Regions from separate parts of the Homo sapiens genome. Here region 1 is linked to region 2. Evidence: fine-mapped expression QTL. A gene starts in region 2. The other region holds a variant in brackets. All regions are shown on one strand. Distances are between the middles of the regions.

Region 1 (12,728 bases), 180 kb before region 2:
AGCCTTCCAAGTAGCTGGGATCACAGCTACCATACCCAGCTATTTTTTTTTTTTCTTGTAGAGACAGGATTTTGCCATCTTGCCCAGTCTGGTCTTGAACTCTTGGACGCAAGCAATCCTCCTGTGTTGGCCTCCCAAAGTGCTGGGATTACAGGCATGAGCCATCGCACCTGGCAGTTTGGTAGCATTTTGACTTAAATTTCTGTCTGTGGACAAATAGCATTTGAAACGTCTATGAAAATGATAAGATAAAACATGAGAAGAAAACAGTTTGTTGATAGTAAAATCTCAAAAATTTTGCCGGTTAGGTTAAGAACAATAGGGCAAAAACTGTATATGTTAAGTTTCTTGGAAGGGATTCCTTCCTTTGAGGGAAAAGCCTGTTGATTCTTACGTTTTCTTCTCTACGAAATTAGGTTAAGGATCGGCTGAAAGCATAAAATGCAGCTTAGAAGTTGCCCGCTTCCCCTTCTTCCCCATCTACACCCATGCAACTGTGGGACCTCTGCCCTTGGCTAGGAGAGCTTTTGGCACTGTGTCTTGCTGCTGGCGCCCAGACTCAATTTTCCTGCATCCGGCTTACTGTGTTTTCCTCTTCTAGTTCCTAAGTGGCTCTCCAGAACCTTGACTGGGTTTGTCTCTGGTCTACACTTCTCCTATCCCTCTCCTTCCCAATTTACTAGGTGAAAGGCACCCGGTACCCGCTTTGTAATGCACCCCTACTGCTCCCGACAACACCTCTCCACTGTCATGCTTAATTGTCTACATTTCATTTGTCAGAGGTCCGACGTTCACTTTTTAAAATGCAATGAATCATTAACATGCTAATAAGTGATTTAATATCTATTAATGAGGATTCGCAATATAAAACTGATTTAATGTCTCAACTCACTGCTTCCGTTTTCTCATAAAAGGAAACAGCTAAGTACTACCTAGGAGAAATGATACCCACGTGCATGCATCTTGCTCTTTCCTTTAATGCTTCCTGGGGTTCTATCTTTTCTCTTAGCAATGCACTGATACATTTATGGTGAGGCACAAGTAAGAAAGAGAAGAAAAAAGGAATCACCTTAGGAATCCTTGAGATAACCATATTTGCTTTGTTTTCAACTCCACACACAGCCTATTTCCTGCCCTGGGTTATTTTCCTCAGAGGAGCTGTGGAGATGACTAGACTTACACATAGGTCCACAGCTCCCACAAAGTCTTCACCAGCAAACCCTCCGAGTTCCTCACTCCCACAGCTCCCACAAAGTCTTCACCAGCAAACCCTCCGAGTTCCTCACTCTCATTCCTCTAGCACAAGTTGTGCAATAGCCTCATTTTTACATCTTGCCCCTGAAGAAGGGGGAAGAATTACACCTTGACAGTGACTCAAAAAAGACAGCAGATGCTGACGGGGTTCTTTTGATTAACAGGAGTTATAGAACTATGTCTAAATAGTTCCGATTTGATTTGAACATTATATTTTATCAGCAAATAACATGTGTTTCATTGTAGAAGTAACTAAAACAAAGCATGAAAACATGTGGTTCTACAATATTGGTTTTTTTGTTTTTTGTTTTTTGTTTTTTTGAGACAGGAGTCTCACTCTGTCACCCAGGCTGGAGTGCAGTGGAGTGATCTTGGCTCATTGTAACCTCTGTCTCCTGGGTTCAAGGAATTCTCCTGCCGCAGCCTCCCGAGTAGCTGGGATTACAGGCGCCCACCACCATGCCCAGCTCATTTTTTGTATTTTTAATAGAGATAGGGTTTCACCATGTTGGCCAGGCTGGTCTCAAACTCCTGACCTCAAGGGATCCTCCCACCTCGGCCTCCCAAAGTGCTGGGATTACAGGTGTGAGCCACTGTTCCCAGCCTGGTTCCCCAATATTCTTTTGGCTTGTTTAATTCTGAGTAAGAGAGTCCAAAATAGGGTTCAGGACATTCTTTTCCCGAGATATCCCCGGAGTGAAAATGAGTGTTGGATGATCACTATTTTGGGTACTAATTGTTTGACCAGTATTGAACAGCTGAGCTCCAGGGGTAGAAAGAGATCTAAGGCTTGTCCAGTGAGGATTCCCAAAGTAGTGGGGAAGCAGATACAAAAATCAGTTAAGTTGTGATAGAGTAGTAGGTGTTGCAATAAAGGTATACCCACAGAACAGAGAGGGCCGAGGCTAGGGAAGCTTGAGCAGGATTCAGACTTTCATTAGGCACAGAGGCGAGAGAGCAGCTCATGGCAAGGGCCCAGAAGCTGCCCACTGTTGTGTCTGGAATCTAGTGGGAAAGGGCAAAAGGAAGTCCTGGAGCAGCAGGTTGCGAGCAGGCCATTGTGCCAAGGAGTCTGGTCTTGATCCTATAGGTAGAAGGTGGCTGGTAGAGTTTAATCAGCAGAAGAAAAAGAAATGAGAATGGGAATGTGAGTTAGGTGACAATTGGATGAAGATGGAAGCCTCATGTCAGGAAACCAATTCTGCAGTGGTCTCCTGGCAGAAGGTGAGGCAGACCTGAACTGAGCCTACCTCGGTTAGTGGCCAAGTCTGCTTTAAATTCATCCCTTCTGCCAGATGGTTTTAAAAATGCATGAGCCCATTACTGAAAAACAGAACGTCTTCGAAGAGAAAGGCAGACCGGGAAGCCCTGAGTGAGAAGTACCCAGTGAAAGGAAGGGCGTTTATCAATCCTCTCTCTTTGAACTAAATTCATTAGTGAAATCTGAGAAACTTTGGAGCTTTAATGAATTTGAAACTGGTGTTTCCCTTTATCTGCATCTAGTCCATTTTTAATTTGCGGTCATCTATTAGCTGATGAAAAAAGAAAAATGTCTTTCAGCAGTTGAAGACAGCTAATGAGAATCAGGCTCTCAGTGTGGGCGGTACTGCTGATGTTTGGTTTGTGAGAGATACAGGAATCAACTTGTTGAAGCTCTCTACTTGTCAGAGCACCTTTAAATAATCCAAGCCCAGAGTTGTTTCATCTTCAGGCAAGAGAAAGTGAAAATGGCTTCAAAGGTACAATATCTCAAATAAACACTATAAAATGCATCCACACTTGCCTTTGAAATTGTAGTGGTTCAAGCACACAGAGACAAGCAACAATGTTTATTTCCTGATACTAATGAGCTTGTCTGTCTTTGTCTATGATGATTGTTCTTAGAGACAAACAAATAAAAATGCGAATTATATCTGACTGTTCTAAGAAGAAAAGATTGCCAGACTATTGTATTTTTTGGCAGTTATATGCTTCAAAAAACTGATCGTTTTCTCAATTCCTAGGAAGCGGGCAGAGAAATCACATTCCTGTGGACCAATGCTCCTTAGTGGATGAGTTTTGTGGCATGGTGGTGATTTAGTTAGTAAGAAGCCCTGCCTGTTTTCTGGAGAGTACTATACTTGTCGAACCAGCTCCTAGGACAGTACAGGGTTGTGACTGGTGTTTTGGGGTTCTCTCTGCGCATAAGCCCTTTCCTTTTAATACAAACAGCAAGATCATCCTGTTCAGCAGTTGACAGATGACTGTGTGCACCAAAAGGCAACAACGATGAGGCAACTGATGCATTTGTAACTCAATGTCTCACTGAATTCCAGCTTTCTTTTCTCAAGGTGGTGAAACAGGAAGCAACATCCCATCAGGAAGAACCTGAGGGTGCCATCCAGTAGCTTCGCCTCACGTCACTGACTGCCCTCAGTCAGAAATCTTGACTCGCAACTTTGGAGGGTGGGTCTCTGAAGGAATTTCAGGTCTTACACAGAGATGAGTTGTGCTGCTCTCTGAGGAGAACGAAGCTGGTTGGAACGTTGGAAGCTGCTCTCTGACTACACTTCACAAGCAAGGGGCACCTTTTGTGGACTGACATTTCAGAAAGGTAGGCGCCATCCCATGGATGTGGTTAGTATTTGAGGACTTTCAAAACCAAGGTGGCCGTGATTCCGCGTGTGAGCTTGTGTGTGTATGTGTGCCTGGGTGCGTAACAGAGAGGGAGAGGAGATGGAGATTGGGGGAGAGGCGGACAAATGAAGAAATGTTCATTTTTGGTCTGATGTTTGGGAGAAATACAGAAAAGACAGACTTGGGGCCCTTTGCTTTGTAGAGTTTTGCTTGGAAGTGTTTAGTAGTAGAGGGTAAATTTCGAGTCCAAACTTCCACTCCTGACCTGCATTGCTCTCGGGCGAGTTTAAACTGATTCATTGAGGGTTAGGAAGAAAGGTCTGGGCAGTGAAATCACACACGGCTGAATGCTCAGCATAGCTTGGTTTATCAGGAAAGCCCTGAATCCAGGTGGAATGAAAGGGGTCAGCACAGATCTTTGCCAGGTGGCAAAGGCCATTTCAGACCATCCCAGAGTGCCTTAAGCTGAGAACAAGGTGGGACTTGCTCACCCCACAGTGGCAGGCCTTCCTAAGCTGCTTCTGTCTTGAGAGATGTAGTGCTCAATGTCATGCCAGGAGAAATTAGCTGTTCGGTTCTAAGGCTGCCAGTCTCATGCAGAAAAGTGAAACAAAATCAAACTACTTTTTCTGATCCAAGCAAATGTTTAGCAAGAATGTTCTGTTAAGCATTTTTATTTTTTTGAAACCTTTACACAAAACAAGGGAAATAAAGCTTTAGGGCTGACCAGATAATGAATTTTAATTTATTCATTAACCCACAATGTTCAAGTGCCTTCTCTACCTTAAGTGAGTGTTTGACTTTAAACTTCACATTTTCATTGCCTTCCCCCCTACAAGCCTTTTGTTTTTCTTAAAAGGGGTTTCCATTTATAATTTCTTCAGTAGAATTTCTGGATAAAAAGTTCTTTAAAGAGAAAATATGTATATGTTCAAAAAGGTAATAATTATGTGGCCCTCTCATTCACAATATTTCTGCCTTTTTCTAAAATATCAATCAAATTGATTTACATAAGTTTGAAGATCATTCTGGGCTAATAATAATCTACATTTACTAAGTCCTTGCTGTGTGTACGTGCATTTTCCCCTTTAGGGCTCATGATACGCCACTTTCAGACGAGGAATTGAGGCTTAGTGAGATTTACAGTGGTACAGTAGGGATGTGAGAAAGCCACAGCTTTATTGCATTTCTGCACACTAAGATATATGATTTCAGCTCATTCTATATTCCCATTCTATTCCATTAACCCCCTACAGGGTCCTTGTGTGGAGGGATTCCTGAAGCTATGATAATATTCAAATACTCGAATTTGGTGTCTTATAACAAAAGGCCAAAATCAATCAATCAATCTATCACCTGCTTCTGCTGTTGGAGGAAGGCTTGGTGTGGTGGACAGAACATTGACTAGAAAGACAGATCAAAATTCAAATTCCTGCATCCTGCTTACTAACTATGACCCTGGCAAGTCACTGAAATTCCTTTTTTATTTTTTTGAGATGGAGTCTTGCTCTGTCACTGAGGCTGCAGTGCAGTGGCATGATCTTGGCTCTCTGAAACCTCTGCCTCCTGGGTTCAAGCGATTCTCGTGCCTCAGCCTCCCAAGTAGCTGGGAGTATAGGCATGTGACACCACACCTAGCTAATTTTTTTGTAGTTTTAGTAGAGATGGGGGTTTCGCCATGTTGGTCAGTCTAGTCTCGATCTCCTGGCCTCAAGTGATCTGCCCACCTCAGCCTCCCAATGTACTAGGATTCCAGGCATAACCCACCACACCTGGCCTCAGTGCAATTCTTCAAATCTCAGTTTCCTTATTTATAAAATAATTATTATAACATCCATCAAACGAGGTTGTTTATTATAAGACATAAAAAGGCAGGGTATGTCAAATGCCTTCCATAGGACCTGACAGAGGGTAGGCCCTTGGTAAACAGTATTCATTTCCCCATTTTGCAGTGATTTCTTCATGCTCTTGACATGTTGGATCCTGTTCTAGGATTGGGGGTATCACCAGTGAACAAAGCAGACAAGTCCCTGCCCTCAGGGAGTTGCCTTTCCACTGGTACTTGTTCCTTATATCCTAGTGTACTTTCTTGGGAAATCACTTTGTGATTATCTTTCTTTGTGGAGCTGATCCAGCTTTCAAACAGCCTCTTAAAGTAATGAATGTCCTATGCCAAAAGTCCCCCAAAGCATAGTAAAATCAAGCAAAAAGCAAGAACATCAGATACTTCTTTTTCAAAAGTCAGTTTGTTGTGGTAGGCCAGGAAAGTTGTTTTTACACACACACACACACACACACACACACACACACAGTTTATGTAGGTTTTCCCTGGCCTCCACACCACAGCAGAAGCACTGCCAGGAGCTGGCAGAGTGCTCATGGGAGGAGGGTGCTGGGCTGGCTCCAAGGGAGCTCCCTCCGCTCACAGAGCAC[G/A]GAGTGTATCGTGGCAACTGTTCATTTATCTTGGGCCCCAAGCCATCCACACAAGAAGCTTGGACTTTCCAAGCCCTCCCCAACACGAATTTATGGGATGCGATGCAAAGATTGACCTGCAGGTGTACACCTTTATAAGGATGGATTTGGGACAAAAACGATTGACTTATGTTTTGGCAAAAAGCCTGCAGTCAAGTTCATCAAGTAGGCCAGCTGGCATCAAGAATGGTGTTTTGGCAATCTATCTCTATGTTTGAATCCAGAGAAACTGCAGATCATAGCAGAGAGATAGCAGAGGGGAACACAGAGAAGCTCTCTCTGGAATCAGATGCAGGTAGATTCTTCTTTCTCCTGGAAACACCTCAACACACAATACAACGATCTAATTGATCTTATACAGCCCGAGTTTATGGTTTTATTTACTGGATGGACCCAGGATGATTGAAAAAATCCTTGTGCCAACACTAGACAGACCAGACAGTTGGCAGTATGAAAGAAGGCATTCTAAAGTAGTGGGACTTACTTTCCTAAGTCCTGTGCAACAATCAAGCCCATCATTTTACAGCCATGCTGTATGTGCTGCCTTAAGATTTGTCCTTGTAGCTGGAATTTACAATGATGAAAACATAAATGAAGCTAAAAGTCTAATTAAAATAAATAAATTAGGGCTTATGTATAAAAACCCCAATTGGCAAGTGAACGGAGAGATTAAGAATCTTTGACCTTGTAACAAAACTGTAACAGCCACAATTCTCCACAGGGCTTTCTGTTGATGGTGGACAGATGTTCAATTGTAAATGGGCTTCAGTTAGATCACTTCCAAAGGTTGTTATTATCATAATTTCAAGGCTGAGAATTTCCATTAATAAATAGAAAATAGCTCTGATAAGAAGGAGATTTGGCTTGGATGTCCATGAAACAAATTTTACCTTTCCCAAATATGAGAATTTAAAATTTCTTCATCTGTGAGTATCTTCCTGCTACTTAAATATAAAATTAAAGGGTTCTGGTTATTTATTTTTTTGGCCTACCTGCCCACTGGAAAATCTGTGGAGATGATTTGTGCTGGTGGTGGATTATATGTTTCAATCTAATGGAAAGTTTCCTCTTTATTGTTTTCTGAGTTAAATATTTAGGAAATACCAGGAAACTAAGATATTTAACCAAAATTCCCAAATCTGTCTGCTCAGGATTGGTAAACACACACTCACATTCATACACATGTGTGTATGTGCATAATATGAAAACACAACCAAAAGATGCATACATTTCTCATTAATGGAAAAAGTGTAAAATTCACAGGTAAGGCATATATTTAGGTTATTTGGAGAGGTAAAATATTACATTAAGGAGCTTGAAACCACTTTTACTTACTATATTCAGGTTCTAAGATGAAGTACTTAGTGAAGAAAAATCATATGTGATAATCCATTTAATTCTCTGCTGGGATAAGGTCTATTTGTTTTATTTTGATTTCTTTGCCAGACATATTTTACTGGATAGTCAATAAATACTTGTTGATTAGATTGACCCTGACACAGGCTGAACAATAAACTAATCATTTCAAAATTTAAGCAAAAAATTCTGAAAACATTTTCTTCAATAATGAAGATTACTTGACATCATTTAATAACTAACTTGGCTTCAATTTCTTCCCCTCAAAGTTTGTTTTCTTGTTTGACATATGATTAAAAACTTTAAAAACATACAACATGCTGATGCTGAACAAATGTCAAATTCTGCAGATTAGCAATTTTCATTTGTAATGTTCACATCAGAGGATCATTACTATATTCCACTTTGGGTCAAAGTTACAGGGTTTCATAATGAGCTATTCCTATCCCATTAGCTGTAACTTGCTTTACCTGGCTTGATTCCAACAGAGATCCGCCTTATGTGGAATTCTGGACTATAACTAATTGTGTAAGAGTAAAACTTCAGAGCTTTTCTAGATGATGACTATAAAATCGTATGCAACTTGAATTTTCCTAAGTGGTTGTTGTGTAGATTACACTATTGCAGTGATTTTCAAACGTTTTTAACCATTACTGTTAGTAAGAAATACTTTTCAGATCTCAACTTAGGACATATATACACACACAATTCTGAAATAATAGTTTCATAAAACAATACTTATAGGTATTGTTTTCTATTTCATTTCATTACACTCTACAACATTTCTGGTCATAACCGACTAATTAATTTTGTGACCTACTGGTAGTGGTTCTCAATACTGTCTGAAAATTAAAATCAACTAGGGAACAATAGACCAATGGAATGGACTAAGATGCTAGAAAAAAAACCTCCACAAATTTGGACCTTTGATTTATGACAACATTGGTACTACAGGAAAGGACAGACATTTGAATGTCCATGTACAAATAAATGAGTCTTGATTCTCATCTTAAAATTCATACAGCTCTAAGTATTAATCTAGATGTGACAGGTAAAACAATATAACTTCTAGATCTTCACTGTCCAATATGGCAGCTGCTAGCCACATGTGGCTATTGAGTACCTGAAATACTAGAAAATTTAAAATTACATATGTTACTCCCAGTTTTCTTCCTACTGAACAGCATTGTTCTAGATGACAAAACAGAATATATGTATGACCTTGGGTAGACAGTGATTTCTTTTTTTTTTTTTTTTTTTTGAGATGGAGTCTTGCTCTGTTGCCCATGCTGGAGTGCAGTGGTGCAATCTCCGCTCACTGCAAGCTCCGCCTCCTAGGTTCCTGCCATTCTCCTGCCTCAGCCTCCCAAGGAGCTGGGACTACAGGCGCCCACCACCATGCCTGGCTAATTTTTTGTATTTTTAGTAGAGACAGGGTTTCACCGTGTTAGCCAGGATGGTCGCAATCTCCTGACCTTGTGATCTGCTTGCCTCAGCCTCCCAAAGTGCTGGGATTACAGGTGTGAGCCACTACACTTGGCGATTTCTTAAACAAGATACAATAAGTACTAACATGATGAAAAAGATCTGTAAATTGGTTATGTTAAAAATAAGGACTTCTGTTTCTCAAAGCATACCACTAAAAGAGTAAAAGACAAACTGCAGGAGAGGAGACATTTGCCATGCAAATAACATGTAAGGAGTCATGCATATAACATGACTTGTTATGCATGTAACAAACAAGGAGTCCTATCCAAAACAGAAACAAGGCAATTTTGAAAGATAGACCGCCACAACAGAAAAATGGGCAAGAGGTTTGAACAGGTACTTCACAGAAAAACATATTCAGACAGCCAAGAGACTTGAAACATACTCAACCTTGTTAGCTTTCTGGGGAATGCAGATTAAAACTGCAATGAAGTACCACTACACACCCACCAGAAAGGTGAAAATTTAAAAGACAGACAATAGAAATTTTGGCAAGGATATTAAACCACTGGAACTCTCATACGTCACTGGGAGGAGTGTAAATAGTCACAACAGCTTTGAAAAACTGTTCAGCAATATCTGTTAAACTGAATATACATATGCCTTATGACCTGGCGTTTCCACTCCCAGGTATATGTTCTACAGAAATGCATTCACGTATTTACCTAAAGCATGTTCAAGAATGTTCAAGAATGTTCATAAATGGCACCTTGAAGTGTTGTAATCCCAAACTCAAAACAACCCATATTTCCATCGACAACAGAATGGGAACACAGATCGTGATATAGTGATATAGTCATGGGATGGAATATTAAAAGTCAACGAAAATGAGTTTGCTACTGTTACATGCAACAACATAGATGCATCTCAGTTCTAAAAGTTGAGTGAAAGAATCCAGATGCCAGGAATGTGCTCAAAACAATCGTATTTACATAAAGTTCAAGAACAGGCAACACGGATCCATGGTGGTGACAGGGAGAGGCATGAGGAAGAGTCTGGGGTGCTGGTCATATTCTTTTGTGCTTTGTTTCTTTACCATCTGTATGTTATACTTCAATAATTATATTACAGTAACAATACAGCAGTGACAATACTGATACCAGGACTGCACCTTCAGAGATCTTGGTTTAGTTGATCTGGTTAGGTAGAAAGCATGGTCAAAAAATCTCTCCCAAGGAATTCACATGTAGAACCAGGGTTGGGAACCAGTGCACTAATGGTTTACAACTGGTCCTTTGAAAACCCATGTGCTATGACAAACTGTAATTGTTACACCAGGCTGTGCTAGGCCCTTATTATCTCTGTTCAAGTTACACTGACTTGACGACATAATTCATATTGAGAAATGTTAGCAACATAAGGAGTCACAAAGTTAACTGACCTAGAAAGCCGGTCAGGTGCCTGAAAACAGTTGGCCAGGTTGGTAAGCGTGTGTTCCATTTAAGGGCTCCAGTGATTCTTGCCAGTCTTCTGAGTTTCTGAGTGAAGCTGCAAATCTGGATTTCTATGTGCAAATTCTTGAATTTTCAGTGTTGGCTCAAATTGTTTTAAAGCCCCATGCACCAGTCCAAACTGATTGGTAGACCCAAATTTGCCAGCACCAAGCTCTCCCGTTGGTTTGAAACTCTGACTTAAGTTTTAGACCTATTATAGAAGGACGCTTATGGGCACAGTTGTGTAATATATTAATTATGTTTCTCTTTTTCTGCTTCTTTAGGGATGTTGTGAAACAAAAGCTGACATTTATATATATATACATATATACAGTATTTGAGTTCCTCAGTAGAAAGCTATCATATATACTCAGGTAATTATCTTTATTTTATTTTATTTTACCTCTACTGTGTTTTCTTAACTATAATCTTGGGAAATTAACATCTGTGACTCAGAAGTTGATATCTGGCATTGTTTTGCATATTCTGGGGACAAGTGGAGTTTGGGCAAAGCCAGTACCATGCTATTCTTTATGAAATACTATAGATTTGTATTCTTTCCTTTTGAAAGCGGAGATGCAGGAGAAAGCTTCATGTGACAGCAGCAGGTAGCAAAGAGCCATCAGGGGGTGGCATTTGCTGTCTGTGCTCTGGTCTTCCACCCCCATAACACCTGCTGTTCTGATGGGAAGGAAGGAAGAGCTGGCTGTGCTGGGCAGGTCTCTAGCTTCCAGCGTCTTACCTGTAAGGAGAAACTTTCAAAACCACATTCCTTCAAAATCATAAAATATGACCCCAAATGATAAAAAATCATCATTTGTACGAGGAAGAGTCATTCATGAAGCATGTTCGCAAATATTGACTTGATGAAAGGCAAAGTCAGGTAACGTAGAGGGGAGGAGTTGCACTTTTACCGTTAATGCCTAAATTTGAGTCTGGCTCTGTATCACCTTGAGCAGTCACTTTATCTCTCTAAACTTCATTGTTCACCTGCAAATTGGAAGCATGCATAATTATTATTGTTGTAAGGATTCAATGAGTGTGGGTGCAACATTGTAAGCTGTGGTATGTACAGTTGTTCGTTATAATTTTAATCATCTTATTTACTTTTTGTAACGGTCTGTGAAAAGCTGGTATTATTATTCCCGGTTTTGACCTGCAAGAACCGGATATTCATGCTGCTGGATGCCTGATCCCAGGTCTATGCTCTCCCGGCACCAGCTGTGCTTGCTGACACAGAGCTTCCCCTCCTCCCCACCCTGCCCACTCCTAGTGGGACAGTGGAGGGCTCAGGCAGAAGGGGCTCCCATCCAAGGCAACACTCTGCCTTGGGCCTGTCATTTTCTACACCTTACCAAAAGTTTTGCTAAACAGCAAAGGCAGTTTATCACACATGTATTTTCCCAGCCTGCTTTTTAGTGAAGGTGACAGTGGTGAAGAGGTAGCCTACTGGGAGGAAGAGAAGGAGGAAGCATTATAAGCCACAGAGTGAAGAAATACTTCCTGCTCACAAAGAAAGTGCTCGCTGTGAGAAGGAGCAGTTCAGCGGGGCCTTCAGGAGTCACATGAAGACTTCTGTCTTGGTCATGCTACCAGCCCCTCTGGTGGCTACACAGCCCGAACAGATCTTTGGCTTCCAGAATTCACAGGAATTCTGGAGGTTCAGACCTATCCCAAGGCCCTGTGGACAGGCCTACCCCTAACATTTGCAGGACACAGGGCAAGAATACAAATGGAGGCACCAGCCCTCAGCTGGGCCCTGTCTTTCCTCCCAGCCTCACTTATGTCCTGCTCTGCTAGGAGCCTGATGTGCATGTGTGTGGCCACTGCATGCTACGTCCCCTGCCTTCCCCTCCCCAAGTCTTCTTTGGGCCTTCTCCAGGCCTAGCATTATGCTGTGCTGTCACTTTTAAGAGGACAGACCTAGAAAGGGGCCCATGCAGGTCCTGGAAGTGGGCTCAGAGCTGCTCAGGCAGGGAATTCTAGGATCCTTGATCACCTAGCAAGTCTGGAAAGGGGGCATGGATGTGGGTGTACATGTCTCCTTGAACCTATGGACTCCTCACCCAAGGGAGAAGTGAGGCCAGAGGAGGGCCAAAGGGGGCTCTT
Region 2 (12,728 bases):
GGTGCATGTGTGCCACATTTTCTTTATCCAGTCTATCATTGATGGGCATTTGGGTTGGTTCCAAGACTTAACTGCTTTTGCTTTAAAGTTTGTTTTGTCTGATATAAGAATAGCTACTTCTGCTCACTTTTGGTGTCCTTTGCATGGACTATCTTTTTCCACCCTTTTACCTTAAGTTTATGTGAGTCCTTATGTGTTAGGTGAGTCTCCTGAGGATAGCAGAAACTTGGTTGGTGAATTCTTATCCATTCTGCCATTCTGTATATTTTAAGTGGAGCATTTAAGCCATTTACATTCAACATTAGTTTTGAGATGTGACACACTATTCTATTCATTGTGCTACTTATTGCCTGAATACCTTGTTTTTTTTTTTTCATTGTGTTATTGTTTGATAGGTCTTGTGAGACATATGCTTTAAGGAGGGTCTATTTTGGTGTATTTTGAGGATTTGTTTCAAGATTTAGAGCTCCTTTTAGCAGTTCTTGAAGTGCTGGCTTGGTAGTGGTGAGTTCTCTCAGCATTTGTTTGTCTGGAAAATACTGCATCTTTCTTTCATTTATGAAGCTTAGTTTCACTGGATACAAAATTCTTGATTGATAATTGTTTTGTTTAAGGAGGCTAAAAATAGGACACCAATCCCTTCTCACTTGTAGGGTTTCTGCTGAGAAGTTTGCTGTTACTCTGTTTTCCTTTATAGTTACCTGATACTTTCGCCTCACAGCTCTTAAGATTTGTTCCTTCATCTTGACTTTAGATAACCGGATGCATATGTGCCTAGGCGATGATCTTTTTGCGATGAATTTCCCAGATGTTCTTTGAGCTTCTTGATTTTGAATGTCTAGATCTTTAGCAAGGCCAGGGAAGTTTTCCTCAAGTATTCCCTCAAATATGTTTTCCAAACTTTTAGATTTCTCTTCTTCCTGGGGAACACCAATTATTCTCAGGTTTGGATGTTTAACATAGTCCTAAACTTTGTGGAGGCTTTGTTCATTTTTTTTTTTTTTCGAGATGGAGTCTTGATCTTTAGTCCAGGTTGGAGTGCAATGGCACGATCTCGGCTCACTGCAGCCTCTGCCTCCTGGGTTCAAGTGGTTCTTCTGTCTCAGCCTCCCGAGTAGCTGGGATACAGGCACGCGCCACCTCGCCCAGCAAATTTTTGTATTTTTAGTAGAGATGGAGTTTCACCATGTTGGCCAGGCTGGTCTCGAACTCCTGACCTCAGGTGATCTGCCCACCTCCGCCTCCCAAAGTGTTAGGATTACAGGCATGAGCCACCATGCCCGGCTGGCTTTGTTCATTTGTTAAAATTCTTTTATCTTTGTCTTTGATGGATTGGGTTAATTAGAAAGTCTTGTCTTCAAGCTCTGAAGTTCTTTCTTCTGCTTGTTCGGTTCTATTGCTGAGACTTTCCAGTGCATTTTGCATTTCTCTAAGTGTGTCCTTGATTTCCAGAAGTTGTGATTGTTTTTTGTTTATGCTATTTCTTTCACTGAAGATTTTTCCTTTCATATCCAGTATCATGTTTTGGTTTCTTTACATTGGACTTTACCTTTCTCTGGTGCGTCCTTGATTAGCTTAATAATTCTTCTGAATTCTTTTTCTGGGAATTTAGAAGTTTCATCTTGGTGTGGATCCATTGCTGGTGAGCTAGTGTGATCTTTGGGGCTGCGAAAGAACCTTGTTTTGTCATATTACCAGAATTGTTTTTCTGGTTTCTTCTCATTTGGGTAGACTATGTCAGAGGGAAGATCTGGGACTCCAGGGCTGCTGTTCAGATTCTTTTGTCCCACTAGGTGCTCCCTTTATGTGGTTTTCTCCCTCTTCCCCTAGGAATAGGGCTTCCTGAGAGCTGAACTGCAGTGATTGCTTTTGCCCTTCTGAGTCTAGCCACTCAGTGGAGCTACCAGTCTCTGGGCTGGTACTAGGGAGTGTCTGCAAAGAGTCCTATGATGTGATCTGTCTTCAGGTCTTTCAGCTGTGGATACCAGCACCTGCTCCGGTGGAGGGAGCAGGGGAGTGCAGTGGACTCTGAAGATCCTTGGTTGTGTTTTTGTTTAATGCGCTGGTTTTGTGTGGTTGGCCTCCAGCCAGGAGGTGGTGTTTTCAGGAGTGCATCAGCTACAGGTTGAATAGGGAGGAGGAAAACTTGCCCCAGGGTTACATGGTTAAGTATTCCTAATTTTCTTTCTTTCTTTAATGTTTCTCTGCAATATTTTATAGTTTTCAATATACAGGTCTTTCACATCCTTTGTCAGACTTATCCCTAAGTATTTTATGCTACTGTTTTTATGCTATTTTATGTCATTGTTAATAATATTGTTTTTAAATTCTAATGTTTATTCATTGCTAGTATATAGAAATACAATTGAAATTTGTATATTGATCTTATATCCTACAGTCTTGCTGAACTTACTATTAGTCTTAGTAAATTTTTGTGTGGATTTTCTGTGAAGATGATCCCGATGTCTGTGAATAAAGGCAATTTTACTTCTTCCTTTCCAATCTGGATTCCTTTCACTTATTTTTCTTGCCTGACTACATCAGCTAGAATTTCCTGTACAGCGTTGAAAAGAGATGGTGAGAGCCAACACCCTTGTCTTGTTCCTGACTTTAGGGGAAAAGCGTTTCAGTCTTTCACCATTAAGTATGATGTTATCTGTAGGTTTTTTCATAGATGTCCTTTATCAGGTTGAGGAAGGTCTCTTCTGCTGTTAGTTGGCTGAGAGCTTTTTTTTTTTTTAATCAGGAACGGATGTTGGATGTTATCAAAGGCTTTTTCATGTCTTCTGACATGACCATATGATTTTTCCTTTATAGTCTGTTAATATTGAGAATTCCAATGATTGATTTTAGAATATCAGACAAACACTTTCTTTGTGATCACTCGAGCTCTGTGTATTTCCGATACTAGCAACCAAGGATTTTGGACAAATACAATCTAGTTATTGAGATCTGATCATAGTTTCTCTGCCCAGCTTTATATTTCAAAGCTTAATTGATTTTGGAAGAAAGTTCTAGGCGACATATGTAAGAAAGGGGAGAAACCCATAAACTGCTGGTGATGTGGAAAGTATTTCTTACCAAGTACTTGCTATGTGTCAAGTGGCTTAGGGGTTGGGTGCGAAAATACACACTCCTGAGATGTGGTGCCCAGACAGGGGCTGTTGCAAAGAGACCCCAGGACCCCAGGGTTATTTAAAGAACAGAGCCTTCCACACCCCTTCCCTCTCTCGATAGCAGGGCACACCTTTACATCTGGACTTCTGTTGCTGTTATTATTGTTTTTAATCAAACCTGCATAAACCTGGTGAATCGAAGTTACTTCAGAGAAGAATGACAGTCAGTGAATCCAGAGAGAGATGGGTTTGATGCTTTCTTTTCTCTGGCCACGTGACAGTTCATGGAGTCTTCAGAAATTTCTAATCTTATCAAATTGTTTTCTTTACTTAGTCATTTATTCAGTAAACATAACCAAGTGTGTATAATGTGCCAGCACTCTCCTAGGCCCTTGTCTCTGTTTCCAAGAATTGTTTGAATTGCTGCATTACAAGTTCAAGCATAACTGGGAGGTAATCTAGCACAACTCCTCATTTCACAGATGAGAAAACTGAGAATCTGAGAAGAGAAAAACATTGCCCTAGACTCTGCAGTCAGAGAATCACTACAACCACCACGTGATCCATTCACAGGTGAGTTGGATTTCCCTTTTTCTTCCCATGTCCCCCCTTAATGATAGAGGGCATGGCTCTGGTGTCCCAGGGTTTGAGTCAAATTCCTCTTCCACAAATGACCATCTGTGCAACCTTGATGAACACAGTGCTTACTTCTGGCGCTATTGCCCTGAGTATAGAATGTGGTTAATAATAACGCCTATGTCAAAGGGTTGTGGTGAGGCCACTGGTTCTTGCCTACTTCCTCCTGCTTCTAGCTTTCTGATGCATACATAGGTGGTCACCATGTCCCACAGAGAAAGAAACAGGAACCATGCTCACGCATTAAATCCTTGTGACCCAGTGGGAAATTTTGTATCTTTGTTGACATTACATTTTTATCTATAAAGTGAGATTCTTCATGAGACATCTGTGAGACATAGTCAATATTTTAAGATTTTATAACTCTCAAAGATATAACTTATTGAGTCATCTTGGGCAAGTCATTAGCATTTCTCAGCTCACTTTTCCCACTTATTAGTGAAGGATAATAATTTTTTCCTGGCAGAATTATTTTAAGAATTAAATACTTACTTGTGTATGTTATGTTATACAAATGCCATCCTAGTTGTAAAAACAAAGATAATACGTATATTAAAGGAAGAACCATTCTGGAATCTGGAATTTAAAAAATATTTATTAATTTTTTAAAGTAATACATTCAATAGTTAAAGAAAATGATATAGAAGTTCCTAAAGTGTGAAATAATGACACCTTGCCCAAATCTTTCTACCCTAGACTCACTGCTGAAAGCAATCCTTTTAACTATTTCTGGTTTTAATTTTTCTGATCATTTTCTTCATACCATTAAAATTGTTCTTAATTTTTTTATATGTCAAGACTAGATATGGCAAGTGATGTATTACAATGATGGATAAGGATTTACCTCACTTTTTATCACATTCCCATCCCAATATGAGACTTTTATTTCTTTTATTAATTACCTTTGTGAATTCAAAGTATACATGTATATCTTTACTTCTTATTTTATCAACTATAGGCAATATCTTTCTCTTCACTTTGGAAGATGAGGGAACTTGCCCCCTATACGTTTCTTTGTTTCTTTTTAACTTCCATCTCTTCTCCTTTGTTATCTACTCTTTTACTTTGACATTGTTATGGATGACAACTTTTACAATTGATTCTGCAGCCGGGATGATATATTCTGCTATTTCTTTTTGGTTGATTCTAAAAGTTGAAAATCATTGCACAGTGTTTACATTATGATTTTGATATAATTATTATATAAGTCTTTTCTGAAGTTAAGCATGTATCATGACTATATTTCCCTTTGTTGTGGGATATTTTGGCCCTTTTTTTCTTTCCTTCTGTCTTTTGTGTGTGTGTGTTTCTGTTTAGCTTCTGGACACTGGGACTTCCATTTCCTCTCTGATGGTGTCAGCAACACAATGCAAGCACCACATTCATTGTTTCCTAGGGAAGCTAAACAGTTCCATTCCTGGACCTATACCATGGGTGGGTAGAGAGGCTGCACACAGGGACCAACTAGCCATCTGGCTGCTCTTGCAGATGTACTTACCCTGCTCAGCCTACAGGTTGCTTTTGGGTGCCCTAAATTTTTTATAGCCACTTCTTGCACACCTCCATTAGATGAATGCTTTCATATAAATCTTTAACATGCCTTAGAATTAATTTTAGTTTGTGTTATGACTCTGTAGTTGTTAGCTATTGCTGCATAACAAATTAGTCCAAAACTTAGTGACTCAAAACACTAATAATAATTTATTTTCTCTTGTTTTTTTAACGGTCTGGAATTCAGCCAGGGTGGACACAGTGGGAAGGGCTTGTCTCTACTCATGGTGTTTGGGGCAGACTCAAAGGCTGGGGGCTGAAATCATCGGAAGGCCTGACTGAGGGTAGAGGATCTGCTTCCAAAATGACTCACTCACATGACAAATTAGTTGGTTCTGGCAAGTTGGCCTCCTTTCCAAGAAGTGCCTCTCCACACATGTGCTTCTCTGCAGGGTTGCTTGAGTGTCCTCATGACATGGCTGGTGGTTCCCAAAAAAGCAAGTGATCCAAGAGCAACATTCAGGAATAAGTTCAATCCTTTCTATGACCTAGCCTCAGAACTCACAAAGCATCACTCTCAATACGCCCTATTCATCAGAAGCCAGGCAGTAATTCCAGCACACTTTCTAGGCAGAGGAATTAGGTACACCTGTTGAAGGGAAGCAGGTCATAATTAGAGGATATATTTTTGAACCACCACAGAATCTAACTTAGGTTCGTACAAATATATAAACAGCTGTCCAATACCACATATTGAATAGTCTATCATTACTATATCAGTCTGAGCCATGACTATTTGCATTTACTAAGAATGTGTGTTATTACCATTGAAGACCTTCCAGTGGGACAAGATGTGAAAGCAGAAGACAGTGGTATTGATGATCCTGACCCTGTATAGGCCTAGGCTAATGTGTGTTTGTGTCTTAATATTTGACAAAAAGTTTAAAATGTAAAAAATAAACAACTTCAAAAGTAGGAAAAAAGCTTATAGAATAAGGATATGAAGAATGAAAATATTTTTGTATAGCTGTACAATGTGTTTGTGTATTCAAGCTGTTATTAAAAGAGTCAAAAAATTTAAAAATTCTTAAGGTAGAAAAGTTACAGTAAGCTAAAGTGAATATATTATTGAAGGAAAGAAAATTTTTAAAAATAAATTGAGTGTGGGCCTAGTGTACAGGGTTTTAAAGTCTACAGTAGTGTACAGTAATGTCCTAGGCCTTCGTATTTACTCACCACTCACTTACTGACTCACCCAGAGCAACTTTCAGTCCCGTAAGCTCCAAGCTTACGGTAGGTGCCCTAGGCAGGTGCACCAGTTTCAATCTTTCATACCATATTTTTACTGTATCTTTTCTATGTTTAGATACACAAATACTTACCATTGTGTTACAGTTGCCTACAGTGTTCAGTACCACACTGTACAGGTTTGTAGTCTAGAAGCACAGCCTACAGCCTGGGTGTGTAGTAGGCTGTGCTGTTTAGGTTTGGGTAAGTACACTCTATATTGTTTGCACAATGATGCAATTGCCTGACGATGCATTTCTCAGAACGTCTGCTCACTGTTACGCAACGGAGGACTGTGAATTGGGAGTTTATTTTGTTTTTCAGTCTGTACTGGCAGCGAATCATACATAGCTTAGTTTATCAGACAAGCTGCTTTTCTTGAGCAAAGAAAGAACTAGGAGAGAAACGGGGCTTTGGAACCCTGATGCGGCAATGCTGAAAGAGGAGAAATATCCCAAGGAAGGGAAAGGTGTGTTGCAGAACGATGAAAAATAGGCGGCTTCTCACAGCTGTTCTCAGGGGACGAGACGGGGTGGGATGCAGCTCCGCCGGTGCCTAACACTAAGGGCCCTCATCCTGCCGATTCAGTTGTGTCGGGACCGCCAGTGCTGTCTCCTCGTCAGATGCTGCTTCTGGTCTCCCCGCAGAAGATGCCACTGGAGTTGCCTTTTCAAGGATGGGGACATTTGAAGGCCCTGGACGCTCAGCTCTGAGGCTGGCTGGGATCTCACTAGCACCCCCTGGTGGAGGCCGGAGCCAGGCTGACGCGGGAAAGTGGGGCACGGAAGCGCTGCGGATTGGACCGGCGGCAGCTAGGCCGAAACGCCTGTATTTAAAGGGATAGTAACTCGGACTCGTTCTGCAATATCCCCACAAGGGCCTGACTGAGCGAGCGAGCATGGACGGCCGCGGGGCTTTCTGGACAGTGGCCATTCCCAGAGCCAGGCAGGAAGGCCTCGGGAGGCTGGGGCTCCCGTTCCCGGTGAAGCGGACGCCGCCAGCGCCCCAGAACCCAGGAGGAAGCACACAGGCCCCACAGAGAGTGGTTGGCAAGAGTCACTCGGGGATTAGGATGCCGGCCAAATCGCGGAATTTGAGGCTGGAATCCAAGCTCAACAGGAAAGTAGTGAAATACAAATGGGGAAAACAGGGCTCTGGAGCGGGGAGGGAGCTGGTGCCGGCATTTCCCACCAACGCCGGTTTAGGAAGACGGGACCGATGCCGGCCGCCCCCTGCTGGAGGGGATGTGGCATCTCACGGGCTGCCAGGGAGCGGGGTTGGCTACTCCTGCAACCAGCGTGAAGAGGGTCTCAGGGGAGGCTGTGGTGGGATCCCCCACGTGCCCTTGTTCCTCTCACCGTTACCTCTGGATGCCTCGGGGCAAAGGCCTTCTTCCACCTATAGACAGAGTCTACGCAGGGGTCTTGGAACCCGGGCACACCAGTCCCCAGCTAACGAAATCCCCGAGTTGGGGGATTTGAGAGGGTCACGTTTGGCCCAAGAACCCGCAGTCCTCTTTGGTCTTCGGCCCTCTATTTCTAAGCGTGGGCTTCTGGCACGGCGGCTCTGGGCACAGCCCATGCTGCTTTCGGGCTGGGTGGTTTCAACGACGACAACAATTATCACAGTGACGGTGACCTTCACCCCAACAGGACTGCTGTGTGTGAAGCACTCAAGAGGGCCCCTACAACCAACCTGCCAGGAGTCGGCTCCTGAAAACAGGGTCGGAAAAGGTCAGTGCCCATCAGAATCGAGCTGTCGGCAAAAAGCTGGAGAGGTTAGGAGCTTTGTCTATCTCAAGGGTAACAAACTGCTTTGACCCTGAGGGCTCTGAAGACGACTTTCCCTCACCGCAGCTCTCAAGACAACAGGGATCAGACTCAGAAAGACACTGCCTGTATAAGGCTCTTGTTTGTCTTGTTTTTAATTCCTGCCCTCTGCCTCCAGATCTCAGTCCTCTATCTGTGAAACGGAATTCGGCCTTGCCTGTCCACGAAATGAAGACAAGGCATCTCGTGTGTGTTAAGATGAAACAAGATCTTAGCAAGAGAGTAATGATTTCTTTTTTAAAACATTTTTTACTGTAGTAAAATGTACTATAACGTAAAATTACCATTTCAATCATTTGTAAGTTCAGTGGCATTAAGTACATTCACATTGTCGGGCAGCTGTCAGAGGTGTTCGAACCAGAGCGACTCCATCTTGAACAGGTGCTGCGCAAAATGAGGCTGAGACCTGCTGGGCTGCATTCCCAGGAGGTTAGGCATTCTTCGTCACAGGATGAGTCAGTGGCTGCCAGGGAGGCAGGTTGGTTACCCCAGGAACCAATGAATTGCATCTCAGGGGAGGTTTTGCCAGATACAGGTCACAAAGACCCTGCTGATAAAACAAGATGCGGTAAAGAAGCTGGCCAAAACCTACCAAAACCAGATGGTGACAAAAGCAACCTCTGCTCGTCCTCACTGCTCATTATACACTAATTATAATGTATTAGCATGGCAAAAGACACTCCCGCTAGTGCCATGGCAGCTTACAAATGCCATGACAACATCTACTTAGTTAAATTTGCATACTATGAATATGAGTATGCAAATACCTGTTGGAGTCCCCGCTTTCAAAGCTTTGGGGTACACATCCAGAAACGGAATTGCTGGATCATAGGGTAAATCTATTTTGGAGGAATAGTCGTACTGTTTTCCACAGTGACTGTACCATTTTACATTCCCACAAAATTATTTCTTTCTATCTGCCTTCCCCCACTAGATAGAACACAGGGAAGTTACTTTTTCGTTTCTAAATCCCCAGCACCAGGAACAGTGTCTAGTTCATAACAGAGCTCTATAGAGAACTGTGGGGAAAGAAGTGCAATTTATATGCTGCTGCCTCTTCATTTGGCATCTCAGTACGTGGCACACAGAAAGTAGGCACTGAAGAAGGGTTGAAGGACCTAATGAGTACATAAATGAATGCAGTTACCATTGCTTTTTCCTTGGTCTAGACTGAGGACAGACATTTTTGTAAATTAAGCTACTTAGTTAAATGTAGACCTCTGGCCAGTTTTGCTCATCCAGAAGTTTCACTTTAATGCCACTTCAAAGATACTGTTTTCTGTAAATCAGATCATAATTGTGATGAGAATGATGTGGGGATGTGTCCTGGACTCTCCCCATCCCCCACCTCACAGCCTAATGTATAACGCACATTTTATTCAGGACCATTTTGGATGTGTAGGATCTGCTCCAGAACACAGGATAATGGGCCTCTTTTCTGGGGATGGTGTGGTTCCATCATTAGATAGCAGGTGTGTCATCTGCAGGTACTGGTCTCACTATTCAACCACTGGTTGAAAGATTGGTTCAAGATCAACTCTTTGAAAAATCAAAGTATTACTTTTACAAATGCTTTTTTGATATTTCTCAACCAATTAACCTTGAAAAGTTCACCATGAAGTTGAATTGCCTAAACTTATACATTGTATGGGCACTGAGATGCAATTTTTAGGGCTGTGTGGGCATCAGCGATGCCTGTTTTCAATACATTGTAGCTATGCTCAGTGTCATGGGCCTTGTAGGGCTGACCTCTTTTTGTCCAAGCATTGAAGCCAATCTAAAACTCTTTTCCAAAAAGAAAATGTTTTCTTTGCTAATAAGTCACCATCAACTGCAGCAGAGGCAGCTGTTTGGGCTTCACAATTTGCGGAAGCACATGCCAGCCTGGCTCTGTTTTGTGCTTGTTCACAGTATATGGCTTTGGCCTTGTTCAGCATCAGGGAGTAGCTGTTCCTTGGGTCATGCATGGAGTTGGATTTAACCCTGGCTTTCAGCTGGCCAGTCCTCATCAGGAGCTTGGGCAGGAGAAATAGTACTCTGGTGAATGGTCTGAAGACATTAGATCATAGATGACCTTGGCTGCAAGCAACTAAATCCAGACCACAACAGTTTATCCAAATAGGGTTAACCAAACAAGTACAATGTGTACCCAAATGATATCAGTGTCCCATGATCCTTCCATCATCCACTGGATGATTTCTTAATTCAAAGTCAAACAAAAACAAAAGCAGATTTGAAACATTCTCATCCATCCTTGAAACTGGATCACATGCCATGGTCTCGCTCTTTGAAGTGGTCAACTGAACAGCTGGATACATGGTCTGGAGCTGGGAGGAGGAGTGCCTTAGTCCATTCCTGCTGCTATGACAAAATAGCTTAGACTTGGTAATTTATAAATAATAGACATTTATTTCTCATTGTTCTGGTGGCTGGGAAGTCCAAGGTCAAGGTGCCGGCAGATTCAGTGTCTGGTAAGCTCTCTGTGTCCAGGATGACACCTTGTTGCTGCATCTTCTGAAGAGGACAAATGCTGTGTCCTCATATGGCAGAAGAGATGCAGGGCAAAAGGGCCAAGAAGCCCTCTTGAGCCTCTTTAATGAGGGCATTAATTCCATTCATGAGGGCAGAGCCCTCATGACTTTGGGCCTTAACCCAAAAGGCTCCACCTCTTAATACCAGCACAATGAGGTAAGTTTCACCATGAATTTTGGAGGGACATAAACATTCAAACCGCGGCAAAGAGTCTGGACCAGGGGATGACTCTGTGAAGTGCGTGCTTGTCCACTGCCAAAAGAAAGGGATAAGATGAGGAATGCGAAGCTGAGAAGGGGAGGGTTCGAGATCAGCACTGCATTGAGAGAAAGGGGAGTTGGGCAGAGGAGTGTAGTAGCAATGGTGGGCATGGCGATGGCTCAAATGAAGAAGGTGATTGCAGATTTCCCTGTTGCATGCTTGGCTCCAGTGGTGTTCAGAGCTCAACCACATGCTCAGTGAGAGTAGAGAGTTGAGTTTACCCAGGCCTGTAGTTCTGCATGACAACTGCAGTGAAAAGGGATAGGGGAGGGTGCTGAGCATATTGGCAAGAGTGTTTTCAGAGTCATGGGGCCTGGAATGCAAGCTGGATATGGAGGCAAGTGAAGAGAGGCTGGTGGGTTGGGAGATGCAGACTGAGAGACCTTCTGAGGTAGGAGCATTTGGACGAGCATGCTGGGAGGACAAGAAGCTGTGGTCAGAGGTGGATGTTCAAGTTTTGGAAGGTGGAACAGCTAGGGGTGATGACAAGGTGTAGGGTGTGAATTTGAGAGTGGACAGTTGGGGCAGCATAGCACAGAAGGTCACTGAAGGAGGAAATTGAGGAGCCCAGAGCCCAGGGTGGGGGATGGGAGTTGTCTATATGTGTGTCTGTTAGGGGTCGAGTTTGGCTGCATATAACAGACAACCCAAATAGCAACAGCTTAAAAGAGACAAGAGTATATTTTTTTTCTGATATAGCAAAAAGTGCAGAAGTAGACAGCTCAGGTCTGGCATGGTGACTCCAAGATGTCATCAGCAACCCAGAGTTCATTGATCTTTTTGCTTCCCAGGGGTCTGGCACTCTTCCTCATGCTTACGAGATGGCTGCTGGAATTCCAGGAATCACATGCAAATTCTAGTCAGGAGCAAAGAGGAAGAGACACAGTGAAAAGGGGTATACAGCGGCAGAAGGAAGCTCCTCAAATGAACTCTGCTAGAACTCTAGCCAGTAGCTTCTCCTTCTATCACAGTGGCCAGAACTGTGACAAGTGACCATCCTTAGGGGAAAAAAGATGCTGAGAAATGTGAATTTTGTTGCCACCTTACATTTTCAAAGGAGTTCCATTCGTAAGTACAGAACGCTCAGAGAAGAGGCAGCAGATCTAGGATATGGAGCAGCAGCTCTTAAGGGCACAGTGGGAAGGTTTCAAGACTGAGGAGGATCTTGGATTTGGGTAGGGGAAGGCAGTTCACAGTATTGTGGAGGAAATGCTGTGAAAGAGAAAGTGGAAGGCATGGAAGCTTAAACTTTTAATATGACTGGTGAATACAAGGATGAAGGGCAAAGGGAATTCAGACTCATGGTGGTCAGATTAAGACCTTCAGCGGCTCTGTCTCCCAGCCCCACATACCCACTTCCATGTTCTGCTCTTTACTGAAGCTGAAAGTCTGCAACCTTCATTCTCTGACTCCCTTACATTTTCTTAGGCTTCTTGCTAGCTTCTGCCAAAAAGAGGCCCTGGCAGGAGATTAGATGGCAGGAGGCAGAGGTAAGGATTCCATGTTAACAGGTGCTGGAAGTTGCTGGTGTGGCAATGAGAACTGGGCCCCGGTCAAGGCAGCACTACTTTGGTAG

Which allele goes with the higher level. Positions count from the first base shown, and alleles are read on the strand shown. Sizes are in standard deviations (SD) of each study's normalised expression.
With allele G in place of A in region 1, the expression in skeletal muscle of the gene that starts at base 6,853 in region 2 is lower (small effect, 0.26 SD a copy in GTEx).

The links.
Region 1: its variant is fine-mapped to the expression of SPATA41 in skeletal muscle (GTEx, PIP 0.98).

The regions. Positions count from the first base shown.
Region 1 is chr15:100,519,932-100,532,659 of GRCh38, reverse strand. It overlaps CERS3 (ceramide synthase 3), which reads left to right and starts at 3,710. Exons shown (of 12, transcript NM_001378789.1): 1 at 3,710-3,847; 2 at 10,904-10,993. The variant G/A (reference allele first, on the strand shown) is at 6,304.
Region 2 is chr15:100,344,843-100,357,570 of GRCh38, reverse strand. SPATA41 (spermatogenesis associated 41) reads left to right here and starts at 6,853. Exons shown (of 2, transcript NR_028139.1): 1 at 6,853-8,837; 2 at 11,944-12,728. LOC105371021 (a long non-coding RNA gene) reads right to left here and starts at 7,965. Exons shown (of 3, transcript XR_007064777.1): 1 at 7,889-7,965; 2 at 6,626-7,196; 3 at 5,427-5,892. RefSeq lists an enhancer at 7,426-7,685.